Linked DNA regions of Homo sapiens: all the other regions are linked to region 3. Evidence: fine-mapped expression QTL. A gene starts in region 3. Each other region holds a variant in brackets. All regions are shown on one strand. Distances are between the middles of the regions. Region 1 overlaps C1orf87 (chromosome 1 open reading frame 87). Region 2 overlaps LINC02778 (long intergenic non-protein coding RNA 2778). Region 3 holds the start of C1orf87 (chromosome 1 open reading frame 87).

What was found. PIP is the estimated chance that this variant, and not a neighbour inherited with it, causes the effect.
Region 1: its variant is fine-mapped to the expression of C1orf87 in aorta (GTEx, PIP above 0.99).
Region 2: its variant is fine-mapped to the expression of C1orf87 in whole blood (INTERVAL, PIP above 0.99). The same link has a PIP of 0.9 or more in NK cells, blood mononuclear cells and platelets.

Annotation. Positions count from the first base shown.
Region 1 is chr1:59,993,371-59,996,135 of GRCh38, reverse strand. All of the region lies in intron 11 of C1orf87 (chromosome 1 open reading frame 87), which reads left to right. Among named protein-coding and RNA genes, the nearest start is that of CYP2J2, 68 kb to the right of the region's middle. The variant G/T (reference allele first, on the strand shown) is at 1,075.
Region 2 is chr1:60,140,965-60,143,729 of GRCh38, reverse strand. All of the region lies in intron 1 of LINC02778 (long intergenic non-protein coding RNA 2778), which reads right to left. Among named protein-coding and RNA genes, the nearest start is that of LINC02778, 28 kb to the right of the region's middle. The variant A/G (reference allele first, on the strand shown) is at 1,607.
Region 3 is chr1:60,072,543-60,075,307 of GRCh38, reverse strand. C1orf87 (chromosome 1 open reading frame 87) reads left to right here and starts at 1,538. Exons shown (of 12, transcript NM_152377.3): 1 at 1,538-1,618; 2 at 2,638-2,765. The coding sequence starts at 2,665.

The DNA of each region.
Region 1 (2,765 bases), 79 kb after region 3:
TAGACCACGAGGAAGTATAATTGCCATACAAAATCCAGGGACTCTTAATAATTATACCAAAGAGAAAAAAAAACCTGAAAATTTTAATTGAAAGATTCATCTGGTTGAATTATAAAGTTATTTATTAAAAATACGTTATGAGCCTAGAACTGTGTTAGAGGCTGAACCAAGAGGAAAACCAGAAAGGATGAGACATAGTCTCTGGCCTCAAGGAGCTTACCTTTAGGTAAGACACAGAGACTAACAATAGTTCAGTGCCAGTAAACAAACAAAATTAAAACACAGCATTAAGTATTACAAATGAAGTTACATGGCTGGGCATGGTGGCTCATGCCTGTAATCCCAGCACTTTGGGAGGCTGAGGTGGGAAGATCACTTGAGCCCAAGAGTTTGAGACAAATGAAGGCACAAATAAGAGTTCAAGAGTCAAAAGGAAAGTGAAGGTATGAAATGAGGCTGACCATCTAATGCGAGGTCCGGGACCAAGAGAGGACTCCAAGAAAGAGAGAACTTGAGCTGAGACTTCAGGTAGAATTTGGACAGTTGGACAGGTCATCCCGAGTTTGAAGTCATCTCCTGCAAAAGTTAGAAGGTGAGAATGAGTATGATGGAGAAGCGAGTACCAAGACAGGACTGCTGGAGGTGGATGTTGGACATACAGTAAAGTTGAGAACCTATTATGAACCCTAAGGGATAGGATGAGGCTTCATTCTTTACCCAGTATCCAAATGTACATGCGGAGGAAGGCATAATGAAAGCTGAGATGGATGACTTAGGGAAGGTACTGGAGAGAAGGAGATGAAAAGATTATTGAAATAACCCTGAGTCTGGGTATTCACAACAGGGCTATGAGAGTGGTGATGAGGTTACAAGCAATAACAAAACATTTTTTAAAAAAATGACATTGCTAAAGAAACAAATGCTTACTTGTGATGGATAATGGATCATAAACTTAGTTGCTAAGACACTCTCCAAAGACTGGGAGATTTCTCATGCTTCTGAACCGTTCTGAGGAGAAACGGAGTTTGTTGACTTTGGAGGCAGATTCCGACAGATTTGAAATGCCTTTCTCAT[G/T]GCCTCTTCACTATTTATGCCTGTTTTCTCTGTTTCCATGAAATTCATTAGTTCCTCAACAGCCAAGGAATGTGTCAGCCAGATCTGGGAAAATCTACAACTGTCTTTAATGAGGAAAGAGGATTAACTGAGGTCACTTTGGTGGTTTATTAACCCACAGTACTTAGCAGACCACCATAGCCCCATTCTAGATGCTGAGCAGATGATATCTGCTTTGCCCATGGATGAATCACTATTCTTTATTATGTGCAAAGAAATATGTAGGCCAGCATGTTCTCCATCCAGGATGAGGACAGGCCATCCATCATCACATCAGTGCTTCTGGGAACCTACTGTGCTTATTCTCTAATGGGGGTTGTCAACAAAATAGCCTTGAGGAGAAGGGATAAGGAATGATTATGAATAACTAGTCATGTTTTCTAAAGAAAAAAAAACAGTGGTTAAGATAAATGTCTGGGTGAATGTTGCATTTGGAATTTTCCCAGTGAAGTGAAAGCTAAATAGAAAGTGTTTTAGAGTTCAAGGAGGGAGAATGCAATGAGAGCCTGAAAGAAATTCCTCTGCATGAGCCCGGACTTTACATATACTACATCACTAAATTCTCACATCAACAACATGCTGAAGGGATTAGTATCCTTATTTACAGAGAAGAAAGCCAAGCTCAAAGTGATAAAATAATAGCCAGTAGGATGGTGAGCCATAATTCAAGCCCAGCTCTCCATGAATCCCCACTACACCCAGTCCCATGACATACTAGAAAGAGCACACGATTTTGCTTGATTTTTTTTTTTAATCAGAAGATTTAGATTCAAATCCAGACTCCACCCATTGTTGATCCGTAAAAGCCAGTCACTTACATTCTCTTCACCTGTTTCCTCATCTACAAAGTAAAACTGATAATAATAAAACATACTTCCCAGATTTGAGAACGGATCAAATGAGATAAAAGATTGAAAGTTCTTTATATACTGTACAATGAAGTTGATGTTGAAAATGTTCTTATGGTGGGGTGCAGTGGCTCACGCCTGTAATCCCAGCACTTTGGGAGGCCAAGGCAGGTGGATCACCTGAGGTCAGGAGTTCGAGACCAGCCTGGCCAACATGGTGAAACCCCGTTTCTACTAAAAATACAAAAATGAGCCGGCTGTGGTGGCAGGCACCTGTAGTCCCAGCTACTTGGGAGGCTGAGGCAGGAAAATCACTTGAACCCAGGAAGTGGAGGTTGCAGTGAACCGGGATCATGCCACTGCACTCCAGCCTGGGCAACAAGAGCAAAACTCCATCTCAAAAAAAAAAAAAAAAAAAGGATTCTTATTATTTTTTTATTTTGGTTCTGGTTAGAAAAGACAGGCTTTCCAACACTAAGATGGATTGTAAGGGCTATTTTATGCAGCTGTTCTGGGCATCCCCTAATGACAGAGTAAATTAGACAGATACAAATTTCATTCAGTGGACTTTTTGTTTGACTCTAGGCATCTTCTATCAATGGTAAAGCTTAGAAGATAGAAAATACTACTGTGATTCCTAGATGTATTTTTTAACATAACTTTTAATTTTTAATTAAAATATAAACTAAATGCTATCTATTTTAATAAGCAATTACATATATACTGTTTATATATTTTTAAAATAATGTTGATGACATAATTATTATAATTATCCTATAGTAAAATTTCACATTATTGAGTGAT
Region 2 (2,765 bases), 68 kb before region 3:
ACAGACACCATTATTTCAAACTTCTAGCCTCTAGAACAGTGAGACAATAAATTTCTGTTGTTTTAAGCCACCTGGTTTGTGGTACTCTGTTATGGCAGCCACAGGAAGCTAATACATACCTCTGTACAAACAATTGACTATCATATTAGAGGAGCTCGATGCATATGTATTGACTTAATTTCAACTCAACTGCCCTGGGAAGAATGCTCTTCTCTATTGCTGGAGATGTGCAAACACAAGTGGAAAAACTATTATATGGTTATGTTATTAGGGGATTTAAATCATTTCTAAGGACCCACCTAAACCAGATCCTATGAACTTGAGATCTGAAAACTTGAAGGAGAATTATTCTGGGGCTGTATTACTACATTTGGAGAGGTAACTCTGCCTAGTGTTTCTAGCACAGTTAGATTTCTATAAAGGTATCCAATCTTGTGATCTACAGCCATCAATAAGAAAAAGTATTTTTTAAATGCTGTTCAGGTATTTCTGAATGATTTACTCATCTTCAAACAGTGTTTGTACTCCATGTGCATTATGGCTTTAACTGCTTTCTTTATATCTTGCAATTTTTTAGACCTGGAAAGGAAAATGTATGTTTCAGGTATAAAATACCCTCTTGAACTAAGAAAGGAATGACTGAGACTCGCCAAGCCTTCAACAGATCCCCAAGTTCCTCACTTCCTCTTGGAACGTAAGGAGTATTAAATGACTATGAATGTGGAAACCACCAAAGCTGCAAATGAAGCAAACTGTATAAATTTAAAATTCCTGCTCTTGTGTATGTTCCTTGCTGGAAATAGAGAGCTCCTCCTTTTTATTGTTAAGGGAGTATCAGTTTATTTTTTCAGATTATTCCCACTATTGAATATTGACTTATCATTTATACAAAACTGTAAACAGGAGCCTAATACCTGAGACCAATTGTAGATTATGGAAATGTGCTCATCTTCTCTGTAGGGATTCATCTTCTTATGGGGAGAATTTCACAGAGATAAATATAATTGCTTTGCATAGGTTTGCAAGAAAGTTTAGTGTTCCTAGCTATCAGATGAGGAAAGGAGAGTAGAAAAGGACTAACATTCACTAAGAACCTACTAGGGACCAAGTTCTATGCATGGTACTAAATTTAATGATACTAACACACTGAAGCATAATTACCCTCTGTTTTGATAGAAGACAAAATAGAGGCCCAGAGTGGTGCCCAGACTTTCCCAGGGCTAGTGAAGGAGCAGAGCCAGGGTTCAAACCTGTCTGTCTGCCTGTAAAGTTTAATCTCTTTTCATTTACTGCATTGCCTTTCTGAAATGGAATAGGAATTTCTCAGATAGGGGTGAATGGAGTAATATTTATTAACGTCAACCTAAACCTTGTGCTCTTCCAAGTTATCTGATAGATTCGCTCCAAGGAGCCATTAAGAAAAGCCACTGGTCCAAGGGCTATAAATTAACACTTTCCTCATACACAGCTATAAGCAGCTCTTTAAAACCTGGGTATTATCGTCCTTAAAATAAGTATGTTTTCTGGGCATTTATGCTCTATCACTCTTGGTTTTTCCATCCTTGACTCCATTAAAAGAATTCTTCTTATTTCCTTTTCTCTTTTT[A/G]TGGCTTTGCAAGGGGCTAATTTGCAGGCAAAATTGCTAATTTTAAAGCTGCTTTCTGCTTTGTCAGCATGAGACTGACTGAGGAGTTATTAATAGAAGAATAGGATTCCCTTTTCATCCTTTTGCTCTTGACTGTTGCAGGAGGTGGGACAAAAATCCATTATTTAATAACATTTGTTCTTCTTGAAAGGTCATCATTCCAGCCTTTTAGTTTCCACTAAACTGCAGCAGTATCAGCAGCAATAGCAGCCACTTTCTCTTCCTGAAAGGCTTCTAGAATTCCTCCACGCTGCATGGCTGGTATAAGACTGTCTTTGAGATGCACCTTGGAAATGAGGTCCATGCAGGAAAATTCTCTCAGTTATTTCTATGCATTTTCCAAATAGTAATTTCTAGCCATAAGTATTTGTAGTTGCCCCGAGTCATCTGCATGTAGATTTCTGGAGCATAGGGTAAATGTGGTGTATATCAGTTAGGAATTGCATTCTGCGGCTAGTAGCAGAGAATAGAAATAGCAGTGGCCTAAAGAAGAGAGAAATTTATTTTTTACATTAAAAAAATCTTAAAATAGGCATTCAGGATTGGTATGTGACCTCACATTGTCATCACGGACCCAGCTTCCTTCTGCTTTTCCATTTACTGTCACAATCATGTGGTTTCCATTCTCACGGATGGCCCACAGTCTAAGACACAGGTGATTCTAAGCAGGAATCAGAACATGAGGGCGAAGGGCAAAAAGGGATAGATCAGCTGTCTGTCCTTCTCTTATGTGCTTTCCTAGAAGACTCCCCAACAATTTCTGTCTACATCTTCAAGCTGCAAGGGAGGCTTGGAAACATCATCTTTTTAGCTGGGCCCATTGCTGCCTCCACTAAATTAGAGTTTTCTTACTAGGAGAAAGGATAGGACAATATTAGAGTGGCAAATGGCATATCTGCCACATGGAACAAAGAGAATGACTAAATAAATTAAGCCAGTAAAACCTCTATTAAGCACCGGTTTTGTGCCTAGAAATAAAATAATAGAAAGTTTTGATTAATCCCTTTAAGGAACAAAAGCTTATTGCTCATGTTGTCTTCTTAGCCTGGAATGCGTTCCCCTTCCTTGCCCACCTGGAAAACTTCAATTAATCATTTAAGATTGCTCTCAAACATTACCT
Region 3 (2,765 bases):
GATGCAGCATAACAAGCCTAGGAGAAGTAGTGGGAGATCAAGCTAGAGATCTAGCTTGAAGTCAGATAGTGGAAGGTCTTGAAACCACAGACACCTGCTGTGGCTGATGAGATCTTTCAGACATTTGAGTAGAGGAGGGGGCTTGTCAGAGTTGGGCCTTGGGAAGACTGATCTGGAAGCAACGTGAAGGCTAGGAGGGAGGAGTGAGAAGGGAGCTGTCCCCGCTTCTCTGCTCCCTTAACACTTTCTATATCATAGAATGTGGCTGTGTGTCTCACCCTCTAGAGAGTGAGCCCCTGGAGGGGAGCTGAGTGTGCTGTCCACCTCTGGCTGCATGTGCCAGTGGGTGATATATTCACCTGTAAAGCACAGTACAGCTAGAGGTTAGGAGACAGGGGAACAGATGCTGGAGCTGCTGCTGCCTATGTTGATGCAAATAACAATACCGTTTGGGAATCAATCTAAAGTGTCTTTGCCTGCATCAGCTGAAGTTTCTTTTAGCATAATAACAACTGTCTGGAAATGTAGGATATGCAGATCTATATTCTAATCTTAGCTCTGTACTTGCTTTTGCAGGATTTGGAGTAGTTTATCAATACCCCAACTTGTTTCTTTTCTCTTTAAAATAAAGTAAAACTATTTTGTTTATAACTATTAACTTGTGAGGTGAGAGTTATCCAGCTTGTCATAGGGATCTGGCATAGAGACAGTACTCAACGTTATTATTATCAATCTATAATATTCTGGTTTTTTTGTTTCTTTGTTTGTTTGATATGGAGTCTCGCTCTGTTGCCCAGGCTGGAGTGCAGTAGTACCATCCTGGCTCACTGCAAGGTCCACCTCCCAAGTTCAAGCAATTCTCCTGCCTCAGCCTCCTGAGTAGCTGGGATTACAGGCGCGCACCACCACGACCGGCTAATTTTTTGTATTTTTAGTAGAGACGGGGTTTCACCATGTTAGCCAGGATGGTCTCAATCTCCTGACCTCGTGATCTGCCCACCTCGGCCTAACAAAGTGCTGGGATTACAGGGGTGAACCACTGAGCCCGGCCGATATTCTTATTTAATTTAGTCACCAAATCGCAGTTAGGACAGTGTTATTATTTTGCCCCGTTTCACAGATGAGGAAACAATCTCAGGGAAAAGAAGGGATTTACTCAAGCCATACAGTGGAGACGTCTGGATTTGAACCTACTGTGTTGGAATCTCAACTATGTGCAAACTCACAAAGGGAAATGAAGCCTTCGGAGGAAGGGCGGGACAAGGGTGACCACACAGGTGAGCGAGATGGGCTTCTAGAAGGACGCCCGCATATCTCTGAGGAACAGAGAAGGCACAGATCAAAAACACCTAGGCTCTTCACCCGTTGGCAGCCAGAGCCTGGGTCCATTGCCTAGGCAGTGGAGAAAAACCTGGTCCCCGCCCAGAAACAGCCTTCAGCGTCCTTAGCGACCAGGGCGGAACAGGCGCCGCCCGCGATGCGGGCCCTGTGATTGGCCGGATTCCTGGGCTCGGTCCCCACGCCCCGTCCCGTCCCCGGGTCTGAGAGTGTCAGCTTCCTGGGGAGAAGCACGGACCGCGCACCTCTGAGCTGCCAGGGTGGGGACGCTGCCCTAGCGGTAAGCCCCCCGACTCTGTTCTCTCCGGGCAATCAGGGCCGACACGCAGCTGCTGGGCAGGGAGGGGATTTGAGGATCACGAGTTCCGGGTCTGGAAGATTCCAGACAGGTGCAAAGAGGCTGCAGGTCCCCGGGATGAGGGGCTGCCCTAGCACAGGTCTTTAGTATTGGACTTTTGGGAAGAACCCTGGCCTAGACATCAGACCCAAGTACTGGAAACAGTCCCGTCCTTCATTCCTCTGTGACCCTTGTCAAATAACACACCCTCTCTGGGCCTTAGTTTTCCAATCTGTGAAGGAGCCTTTGGAGTAGAATGATTTCTAAAGGCCTTTCAGCCTCTGGGTGGTTCTAAAAGGGAGTGTTCAGCTGTGGCCAGATTTACTGAACTTCTGATTTTCCCTTGGCATCACTCTGTTTAAACACCTTGTGCAGGAGTTCAATTTCAGATTCATTGTATTGTTGTAGAAAGAGATCAGTGATAACAACAAAAGTCTGTCTGTCTTGTGTACAGTCTCCCTTCAGATGCATTATCTCCTTGGATTCACCCTCAAGTCCCTGAGAACAGACCTAGAATTACCCTGATCTCATAAATGGGGAAACTAAACATCAGAACTGAATATGGATTCTTCATATGTCCCACTAATGCCCTTGTTTCTGCTCTGACCTCACTGGAATTCCATCCTATGTCTTGTAGTACAGGAAGGTAGAGTCACCTAATGATTCAGTAGATCTGCTGTACAGACCTCTTAGGTGAGATTCCCAAGTCGGCTAATTACTGGTGATGTGATGTGATGTGAGTAAGTCATATAGCTACATTTTGCTTGTTTCCTCAACAGTAAAACAAAAATGATAATAGTAGTTAAAAATATCTTTCTCATGCCTTTGTTAGGAGTGTTAAGTGAGGTAATATAGGTGAAACACTTTGTCCTGCTATTATTATTGCTTGTTGTTATTGGCAAGGATGATGCAGTTCCCTAATGGAAAATCAAGAGGAACAATTTACTTATTTTCACCCCTAGGGATCTGAAGGGATTTTGAAAGGAATCATGTCTTCAGCCTGGAAGACTCCCCGTGGATCAGATGCAATGCCTGAGATCATGGTGAAAATCATTGGAAGTAAACACTTTCAATACCTCGTGGAGAAGCC